Linked DNA regions of Homo sapiens: region 2 is linked to region 1. Evidence: fine-mapped expression QTL. A gene starts in region 1. The other region holds a variant in brackets. All regions are shown on one strand. Distances are from middle to middle. Region 1 holds the start of ARPIN (actin related protein 2/3 complex inhibitor). Region 2 overlaps ARPIN-AP3S2 (ARPIN-AP3S2 readthrough).

The links. PIP is the estimated chance that this variant, and not a neighbour inherited with it, causes the effect.
Region 2: its variant is the best candidate, but not a certain one, in a credible set for the expression of ARPIN in fibroblasts (GENCORD, PIP 0.54).

The regions. Positions count from the first base shown.
Region 1 is chr15:89,910,031-89,915,402 of GRCh38, reverse strand. It overlaps ARPIN (actin related protein 2/3 complex inhibitor), which reads left to right and starts at 2,451. Exons shown (of 6, transcript NM_182616.4): 1 at 2,451-2,659; 2 at 4,584-4,659. The coding sequence starts at 2,568. It overlaps ARPIN-AP3S2 (ARPIN-AP3S2 readthrough), which reads left to right and starts at 2,451. Exons shown (of 10, transcript NM_001199058.2): 1 at 2,451-2,659; 2 at 4,584-4,659. The coding sequence starts at 2,568.
Region 2 is chr15:89,857,198-89,862,569 of GRCh38, reverse strand. All of the region lies in intron 8 of ARPIN-AP3S2 (ARPIN-AP3S2 readthrough), which reads left to right. The region is part of intron 4 of AP3S2 (adaptor related protein complex 3 subunit sigma 2); the gene reads left to right. Among named protein-coding and RNA genes, the nearest start is that of MIR5094, 9.2 kb to the right of the region's middle. The variant G/AAAAG (reference allele first, on the strand shown) is at 3,171.

The DNA of each region.
Region 1 (5,372 bases):
CTGCCTCAAGAAAACAAACAACAAAAAACTGGACATTTTGGAAAGTTTGATGATGAGGAGGAACACAAAGCAAGAGGAATTAGTGTAGGAATCAAATGTTGAATGGTGTTAATCGAAGATAACTTGATACTGTCTCCATGGTACCTTGTGGTTTATAATTTAATATAGAGACATTATTAAACTGCAAAATACATGGAAGAAAGTCCAACAAAATTCTGGGGTTTTTTCCCGTGATGATTGATGCTTTTTAGGAAATAAATGTCAAAACCTTTCCAAAAATTTTCCTTTTCTTCTTTTGGGTTCCTCTGTCTTGCTGGTGCCTGGCCTGCAGATTGTGCCGATGGGGTGAAGTTGCAGAGCCTAATAAGCAGATGACTCTTCCTGAGAGGATTTAGAGCAGCCCTGTCCAATACAACTTTCTGCAACAAAGAAATGTTCTGTGTCTTGTAGTCGCTAAACACACGTTGCTATTGAGCACTTAAAAATGTGGCTAGTGAAAGTGAGGAATTGAGTTTTACATTTAATTTAGGTTTAATCAGTTAGAATCGAAATTTAAGTAGCCACATGTGGCTAGTGGCTACCATGGATGGCTGTGCAGTTGGAGCCACAGTGAGGGGGAACGTGACACAGAAAAGGGAAAGAGGAGGAGGACATGCCAGCCAGGTGGCTGTGAGCAGCTGGAGGGTTTTGAGCAGAGAGGGCCAAAGGACAGTTCTACCCAGAGGGGCTTTCCAGTAGGGCTTTTCTATGTTTTTCCTTCTCAGACATACACCGGGCAGCCAGGTAGGCCAGCTAGGAGTGGGGCTGACTCATCCATTAGGCCCATCATACTTTTAGCGGTCCACAAAATGTTTTTATTCTTTTAAAATTTAAATTTAATTTCATTAATTTTTTTTAATAGACAGGGTTTCGCTATGTTGCCTAGGCTGGACTCAAACTCCTGGGCTCAAGTGATCCTCCCACTTCAGCCTCCTGAGTAGCTGGGACTACAGGTGCTCTTTCTTCCTAAAAATATGTTTAGTAATGGATGATTGGATGCAGAAAAAAAAATATATGTTTAGGTTGAAGAAAACACTTTAGACTGGGAGCAGTGGCTCAGGCCTGTAATCCTAGCACTTTGGGAGGCAGAGGCAGGTGGTGACATGAAGTCAGGAGCTTGAGACCAGCCTGGCCAACATGGTGAAACCCCATCTCTACTAAAAATACAAAAATTAGTCGGGTGTGGTGGTGAGTGCCTGTAATCCCAGCTACTCAGGAGGCTGAGGCAGGAGAATCACTAGAACCTGGGAGGCAGAGGTTACAGTGAGCCAAGATTCACCACTGCACTCCAGCCTGGGCAACATAGGAAGACTGTCTCAAAAAAAAAAAAAAAAAAATATATATATATATATATAATTCATATATTCATCTTTATGCCAACCCAGTGGTAAGATAATAATTTTTTAAAAAATTTTTAATGGAGAAAGGGTCCTTTGAAAACAAAAGTGCCTAGGACCCAAGAAAGTCATTGTCTGTGTGTGTGTGTGTGTGTGTGTGTGTGTGTGTGTGTGTGTAGCAGGGAAGGGAGAGGGTGCTTTCTTCTTCCAACATTGACAGCTCATGCTAGACTCCTAGGCACCTGCCTGGCCACCACCCCCTTTAAATGCCGCCCCCTCTCCCGGGGTACACCTGGCCTCCCTGAATGGGCCCACCTGCCCCGAGGCCTGGCACGAAGAAGCCAAACAAAAGAACAAAGATTCCTCAACAATCCCAGGGTCAGAAGAATCTTCTGTACCAGGCTTGGAAAATGCACCTGCGGACTATGACATACTTGGGCAAAGGGCATTGTGGGGCCAGGGAGGAGTTCAGGAGCTGTGCAGGAAGAAGGAGGGAGGGCAATGCTATGTTGTAGAAAGGGTGAGCTCATTAAACTTTACAATCCCCCTGATACTGACCCCATTTTACAGACGAAGAAGCATGGGCTCAGAGAGGTTGAGGAGCTTGCCCAAGCTCACAGCTGGGATTCAAACTTAGGCGTCTTTGGTCCGACACCCATGCCCCAGCTCCCTCGTCACAGATCCCTGGGATACCTGACTCAGCCATTGTAGGGCCGCGGGCGGGGCATAATGGACAGCTTCTAAGCTGACCACCCAATCCTCCCCAGTGGCTGTTCTCCATTCCTGCTTCCCAGAAACCCATCCTTCCCGGGCTGATCCTACAAAGGATCTTCTATAATAGGATCTTGGGGCCTCAATTTCCCTTTTGTGCGTGTGCTGGGGCAGGGATCTTCCTCTAGGAATGAGGAAGAGAGAGAGACAAGAGAAAAGCATGGCCTTTCTGCCCCACTGTGCTAAGCCCCCAGCCAGGGTCCTCCCGGAAGCCCAACTCCTGCCGCGCGCGGCCTGGCGTGCAGGAATGGAGCTCGGTCCCTTTAAATCCCGCCGAGGAACGCCTGAGGGCCGGGCCGCGCCATTCCCGGATCCGCCGGCTGGGAATCGCGGGTCCCCGCGCGTCCTGCAGCACTTCCCGCGCCGCGCCCCCAGCCCAGTGCGCCGGCTCTGTGCCGGGGTGCCCGGGCGGTCGGGAGAATGAGCCGCATCTACCACGACGGCGCGCTCCGGAACAAGGCGGTGCAGAGCGTCCGGCTGCCAGGGGCCTGGGACCCCGCCGCCCACCAGGGGTAGGCCTGGGCTCACGGCCTCGGGTCGGCCTCCCCTGCCCCGGCTCGAACCCCGCAACAGGATCGGGTGGGGGGGTGGGATGCGGGTGGGGGAAAACTGGGGTTGCCAAAGCCGCCTCTCCGCCTTCAGTCCGCCCCTCCAGTCCGCCGCTCCCGGCGCCCCTGCCGCCGCGCCCGCCCAGCGACCCCATGACACAGATCGGCTTAAAGCTCCCCGCCTGTCCGCCTGCCCTCGAGAGAGGGTCCCGACCCCCAGACAGGTCTCCGAAGGCTGGGCTTCGCCTCACGCCGACCTCCGGCCCCACCCCACCCGCGTAACTATAAACTCCAGCTACTTGCCGCGCTGCTTTTGCACAGACTCATGCCCTGCCCCAGAAGGGACAGTGGCCGTGCTGTGGCGGGAACAGCGGGCGGGCTGGTCCAGAGCAGGGCCTGCCTGGGTGAGGAGGATTTGGAGGGCCAGGCCCTGTCGTCACAGGGTTATGAGGCCGAAGGGACCATTCCATTTACAACTGCGCTGAAGAATTGTGCTAAGTGAAATAAGCCAGATACAGAAAGACAAATACTGTGTGATCTCGTATATGGAACCTATAAAAGCGTTGAACCATAGAAACGGCAGAACAGACCAGGCGCTGTGGTTCACGCCTGTAATCCCAGCACTTTGGGAGGCCGAGGCGGGTGGATCACTTGAGGTTAGGAGTTTGAGACCAGCCTAATGGTGAAACCCTGTCTGTACTAAAAATACAAAAATTAGTCGGGCGTGGTGGCAGATACCTGTAATCCCAGCTATTTGGGAGGCTGAGGCATGAGAATCGCTTGAACCTGGGAGGTGGAGGTTGCAGTGAGCCGAGATTGTGCCACTGCACTCCATCCTGGGCGATGGAGCAAGACTGTGTCAAAAGAAAAGAAACAGTAGAACAGTGAACAGTGATTGCCAGGGGATAGTGGATGGGGATGGGGTAATGATCAAAGGTACAAACTTTCAGTTATAGAATAAACAATTTCTGGGGACCTAATGTACAGCATGGGGTCTGGTGGGTGTGTTCATTAATCTGTGGTAATCATTACATAGTGTGTACTTAAATCATCACGTTGTGCACCTTGAATATATACAGTCTTTTGTCAGTTAAATATTTAGAAAAATAATTGTGGGGGGTGGGGAAGAATTGGATAGAGACCAGCTAGGTAGAGTTTTCACTTCCCACTCCCATCCCTATTCCACTGTCATCTTCAGCTGTCCCCATGCTTCTCCATTTCTGTGGATGCAAAAAAGGAAGCCTCCACGTTCTGCTTTTATGAAAACCAGAGTCGAGAAGCCAGGGGTCCACTTCCCCTCAGTGAAGGACCGTGTGATCTTGGACTAGTCTCAGACTTCTGAGTTTTGGTTTCTTCACCTCTCAGTAATAACCATTTCCTCGGGTTAATGACCACCTGGATATGAATGAGAAAAGGAATATGAGAGTGTTTAAAAACAGGTGGAAAGGGAAAATAGTTTATTGCAGCTTAGATACCTACCCTCACATTTGGACCAATAAAAAAGTAAAATCTTTTGTATTTAGTAATCACTTAATAGCTTACAAAACACCTTCACACACATGATCTTGTGTCAACATCAGAGGAGCAGAGTGAGGCAGCTGTTTTCCTCCCCATTTTGTAGATAAGACTGAGGCTCTGGTTCCAGTAACTCCCAGTGGCCTTGTAGGAGGGGGCCATAGCTTGATCTTAGGGCAGCCTGACAAGGTTCCTCCTGGCATCTGGGCAATGCCCCAGCCTTTGGGACCCTTTGGAGATCCCTATGTCGGAAGCACGGGGAAAGGAGCTGCTCAGTACCCAGCCTTCTCAGGGCTGGGTAAATAGGAGACACGGGTGAGATTTGCTGAGGACTGACAAAACTGGCTATCCTTTCTTTCCCTTTCATCCCCAGGGGAAATGGTGTCCTGCTGGAGGGAGAACTGATCGATGTATCTCGGCACAGCATCTTGGACACTCATGGCAGGAAGGTGAGGATGCTTCCTCGGTGCTAGCTAGAGGGCACTGACTTCACGGTCATCATCCACTGTGGCATCTCCTTGTGCTGGGTCCTTCCAGTGCCATGAGTTGGGATTCTTGATGGGCTTAGAAAGCAAGTGGGAAGTAGGTCAGGAGATTTATAGCCAAATGGGACCACCAGCTGGAAGAATAGTTTAAGGCTGTGTTGAGCAGCAGACAGGTGGGAGGGCCTGTGTTCTTGCCAGAAGAGCCTGGGTCATGGCTGAGAAGGCAGACCAGGCCCTAAACCCCAGTCTTGCCTGAATGTAAACTCTGACAGTGTCTGGGGCTTCAGTTCCCATGTTGATGTCCTGGCTGCCTTTGCCCTCTCAGCCTCCTGGGGTCATGTCCTGTATCACCACCCCATCTCAGGTGTCTGTGGGTACACCTGGCATTTACCATCCAGTACTAGCCTGTGTCTTTTTTCGGAGCGCTAGTTCCGACTTTCCACTCCCCCTTCAAATAGCCCCACCTAGATGTGCTGACCACCTTATCTCCTTGATCTCTATAACTGAGCTTGGTCTCTAAAAATGCCCCCTCCAGTAGGGCCAGAGGCCTGGTGCTACATGGAGCCTGCATGTCCCTCCTGTACCCCATGAGAACAGCTCAGCACTATTTTCATGTCAGGCGGTATTTTGCTGCACCCTCCCCTCCTTAGCACACAGTGGGCAGGTGGGAACACCCA
Region 2 (5,372 bases), 53 kb after region 1:
ATATCTTGTTCTTAGATTCACCAACTATTAACATTTGGCATACTTGCTTTTATGTCTATATACATATATACTTTTTTTCCTGAACGATTTTGAGAATTAGTTGCAGACATCATAACTTTTCATCCCTAAATATGTCAATAAATATCTCCTAAGAGCAAGGATATTCTTATATAATACATTGTATGTAATTCTCTAATGATGCACAACACAATTAACATAGTTGGGAAATTTAACATTAATAAATATTGTTTTCCAATATATAGTTCATATTTAAGTTTCCCAATTGTCCCAGAAATGTCCTTTAGATCTTTTTTTAAATCTCAGTTTCAGTTATGAGTCAAACATTGTCTTTAGTTGTCATGTCTCTTGATTGTTTCTGGCAGGTTTTCTAACCTTATTCTCTCTTCCTTCTTGTTGATCCCACATACTGAAATTAGTTTTTCTAATGTACTTCTTAGACTAGCCTTGACTCCTTGGCCGGACACATTCAAGGCTCTCCACAATTTGTGCCCATCCTATCCTGGCTTTACTTCCGTAACTACTGGCCAGACACTTTCTGCTCTAGCCACAGTGGACCACTCCTACTTATTTTGTAGTTCCTGCCTCAACTCTCTGCCTGAATTGTCTTTTCATGTACTAAATACTGCCTGTCATTCAAGTGCTGCTCAAATCCTACCACCCTAAAGCTTGCCCTCATGGTCTAGCCTATTGTGATCTCTTTGAACCAGGTATAGTATTATTTTTATCCTTCTGTGACCTTAATTTATGTACCTTTCTATGTTTTCCCTGCTTGGTTAGACTGCCTTATCTTTGTATTCCTCACTGAATCTAGTGTGGTACCTTTTACTGACTGGGGTAATCTTCAGGTGACTGTCACTAAAGAGTTCCCAGGACTCTAGTCTCATAAGGTTGCTCATGATTTAAACTGTTGGAGGCTGGAGTAAGGTCTGATTTCATAGTCTCTGGGGTAACCATCAGCTCTCCTGGCTGTGCCATTTAGAGCCTAGGGTACTTGGTTCCCTTTTGCTTTCAGAAATCCCTAAACACAGCTCAACATTATGACTGAGCTGGGTGTTGGTGTTAATTATGGTGAATTGAATTTTGTTCAAAGAAAACTGTGTGGGTGACCTAACATTCTGATCTACCAGTATCTAATAGCAAAGCTGGATTTAGAATTCAATTGGGCTTTCAAGATTTGGTCATCAGAGTCACAATTCAATGGCTATGTCAAGGGAATTTATCCAGCGCTTTATTTTTTTTTAAATAGATTTCAATTTGCAGTGGGCCCTCTCAAGAGAATTGAAACATATGCTTCTGAATGGTGCTGAACCCAAGAAAACCTCATAGTATGGAATTTTAAATCTCTGCTAAGCATAGGCTGCTAAAATGGAAAAATGCTGAGAGTTCAAAATTAACTCGTGAGCACTAAGATGAAAGGATCATAAACAGTAATATTGGGTTTTGTTTGCCAGATGTCCCTTCTGTGAACAGAGCTTGTGATAACAAAGCTCATTAATACCTGCCACACCCTGTGACGTTGAAGCAGATGTCCTGACTGCAGGTCTCCAGGAATGGAGGGACAAGTGAGGGACAGACAGTTTGTGTTTTTGATGATGAAAGAGGAGCTATTTGGTCTGGAAGAATAAGGTATTCTGTTTGAGTTTTAGTTCTTGTAAAAGGTGCGAGTTAACATACCTGACTATCCCTGGCTGCCTCTGTTTCTCTATCTGGATGTGCCTAAGAGAAGAAGAGAGCTGAGACCAGCCTTGTGTTCCATTGCATCTATAAAGCCCTTCTTTACTGATGCTTGATAGGTAAGAATTTTGTGGCAGAATTTTTTTTTTTGGCTTAAGTAATAAGGAAATTTATTATCTTACATACAGAAAGGCCAGTTGTAGGGCAGAGTTAAAGCGTGGTTAAGACAGACAGTTTTATCTGCAGTTTCACTTTCTGTAGTTCCAGTTATGCACAGTCAACCATGGTCCAAAAATATTAAATGGAAAATTCTAGAAATAAACAATACGTTTTAAATTGCATGCCATTCTGAGCAGCATGATGAAATGTTGCTCTGTCCTGCTCCAGGATGGGAATCATCCCCTCATCCATTGTATCCGTGCTGTGTACACTAGCTGCCCACTGCTTACTTAGTAGCCATCTTGACTGTCACAGTGTCACGGTGCTTGTGTTCAGGTAACCTTTATTTTACTTCATAATGGCCCCAAAGTGCAAGAGTAATGATGCTGGCATATTGTCATAATTGTTTTTATTATTAGTTATCGTTGTTAATCTCTTACTGTGCCTAATTTACAAATTAGACTTTATCCTAGGTATGTGTGTATAGGAAAAAATAACGCATCCACTGGGGGTCTTAGGACATATTCTAGGCAGGTAAGGGGGGACTACTGTACTTTCTGTATGTTATCTTCAATTCTTAGTGTTGGCTGTAGAATATTTTTTTCAGAGGCCAAAATCTTATTCCCTCAGGGTAACATAAAGACAGAGATCGGCTGGTCATGATGGCTCATGCCTGTAATCCCAGCACTTTGGGAGGGCCAAGGCGGACAGATCACGAGGTCAGGAGATCGAGACCAACCTGGCTAACACGGTGAAACCCTGTCTCTACTAAAAAATACAAAAAATTAGCTGGGCATGGTGGCAGGTGCCTGTAGTCCTAGCTACTCTGGAGGCTGAGGCAGGAGAATGGCATGAACCCTGGAGGCGGAGCTTGCAGTGAGCCGAGATCGCGCCACTGCACTCCAGCCTGGGTGACAGAGCGAGACTCCATCTCAGAAAAAAAAAAAAAAAAAGATCAGCAATAATGATTTCTTAAATTTCTAAAATCCCTGTAATTTGTTTAGAAAAAAAAAGAAAGAAGGGCTGGGCGCGGTGGCTCGAGCCTGTAATCTTAGCACTTTGGGAGGTCAAGGCGGGTGGCTCACCTGAGGTCAGGAGTTCGAGACCAGCCTGGCCAACGTGGTGAAACTCCGTCTCTACTAAAAATACAAAAATTACCCAGGCGTGGTGGCGTGCACCTTTAATCCCAGCTACACGGGAGACGTGAGGCAGGAGAATTGCTTGAACCTGGGAAGTGTAGGTTGCAGTGAGCCGAGGTCGCGCCACTGCACACCAGCCTGGGCGACAGAGCAGGACTCCATCTCAAAAAAAAAAAA[G/AAAAG]AAAGAAAGAAAAGGAAGGAAGGAAGGAAGGAAGGAAAGGAAGGAAAGAAGGAAGGAAGGAAAGGAAGGAAAAAGGAAGGAAGGAAAGGAAGGAAGGAAGAAAAAGAAAAGAAAAAAGGAAAGAAAGAAAAGAAAAAAAGGAAGGAAGGAGGGAAAAAGAAAGAAAGAAGGAAAGAAAGAAAGAGAAAGGAAGCAAGGAGAGAGGGAAGGAAGGAAGAAAGGAAGGAAGGAAGGACACTTGGGCTGGTTGTGGAGGCTCACGACGATAATCCCCAGCACTTTGGGAGGCTGAGGCGAGAGGATCACTTGAGCCCAGGAGTTTGAGAACAGCCTGAGCAATAAGTGAGACCCCATCTCTTTAAGTAAAAAAGAAAAAAAAAAAGAAAAAAACAAAAGCAAGGATTGTTCCAGACTATACTGAATATCTGCTGCCATATACACACTCGCTTTCCTTACTTGAACTTTGGATTGCCTCAGTGCACAATCTCATTGATTACCTGCTGCTTCAAGTTTGGTGTGTTAGTCATTCCTTATTACTGGTTAGTAGAATAACAGTGTACACAAAACAGCACAATTTGACCTTTAGAGATATTCATTTGATATGCAGCCGTTTTCAGTAAAACCTAGTGTTTGTCAAGGTTGTAGTCAGTAAACAAAGCTTATTACCCATGGTATTACTTGGATATGTTGCAGATAAAACGAATTGTATTTTGCTTTGGTTGCTGATTTATAGGCACCCTGAAAGGCTGGAATTGAGATTCAATTTTATTGTTCTTGCTATTATTCCTTATATTGCAGAAGAGGATTAGCCTACTCTAAGATAAGAAGTAGAGTTTCTCTTTCTTTCTTTCTTTCTTTCTTTCTTTCTTTCTTTCTCTCTCTCTCTCTCTCTCTCTCTCTCTCTCTTTCTTTCTTTCTTTCTTTCTTTCTTTCTTTCTTTCTTTTTCTTTCTTTTTTTGAGATGGAGTTTCGCTCTTGTTGCCCAGGTTGGAGTGCAATGACGTGATCTCGGCTCACTGCAACCTCCACCTCCTGGGTTCAAGCAATTCTCCTGCATCAGCCTCCTGCCTAGCTGGGATTATAGGCGTGCGCCACCACACCCGGCTAGTTTTGTATTTTTTTTTAGTAGAGACGGAGTTTCTCTATGTTGATCAGGCTGGTCTCAAACTCCCAACCTCAGGTGATCCGCCTGTCTCAGCCTCCCAAAGTGCTGGGATTGCAGGTGTGAGCCACCACACCCAGCAAAGCAGAATCTCTTGATTCCTAACTAAGAACCCTTTTCCAGGCTTGATTTTTGTATCAATCAAGGTAGGCTAGGTAATGCATTACTCCAAAATCCCAATGGCTTATGAGAGCAAGGTTTATTTTTTCACTCGTGCTATGTGGCCATTGTGGTGTGTCTGCTGACTGTAGTTCCTCTGAGGTCCAGGCTGATGGAAATCTCCTCAACATATGCTTCTACCTGGGCATGTGTGTGTTCCGGCTCTTGAAGTGACACATCCTCGTACACTCACATTTCAGTGATCAAAATCAGTCACATGCTCCCACCCAAGGGATGGGGAAATGATCCTATTATGTGCCCAAGAGGGAGGAGAACCTGAACTAGTTGAATATTACCAATGATGACCATGGTTTTTTCATGGATTTTCTTAGAGGAAAAGTTAATGTTTGATTTTTATTATCACTTTGTAGAAGGGAAGCTAGAAATTTTAGTAACAGAAAAATAGAGGAGTGCTCTAATAAGAAGAAAACATGGTTGAATCTTAGGAAAGGTATCCCACATGGCAGCTTTTCAGTTTCTCTGATTATTGGGCATTTATATCTTCTATACTTCCCAAATGAATTTAAGATGACTTAAAATAAAATTTCTTAACAGAATAAATGGTTTTTATATGTGGGAGGCGAGTGCCTCCCTCCTTAGAGGCTTTCTGCAAATCATTTGTCTTTACCTTGGCTCTCTGACCTTGATGAAGTACTGATGTCTGAGAGTGTTTTTGTCTTTTCTCTGATTACCAAACAACAATCATTTATTAAGCATTCATTAGGAAAAAGACACTGCGCTAAATATAGAGATACAAAGATATAAAACTCAAATTTTCTACCTGTAAGAAGCTCATAAACTAGGCACGGTGGCTCACACCTGTAATCCCAGCACTTTGGGAGGCCGAGGTGGATGGATCACTTGAGGTCAGGAGTTCAAGA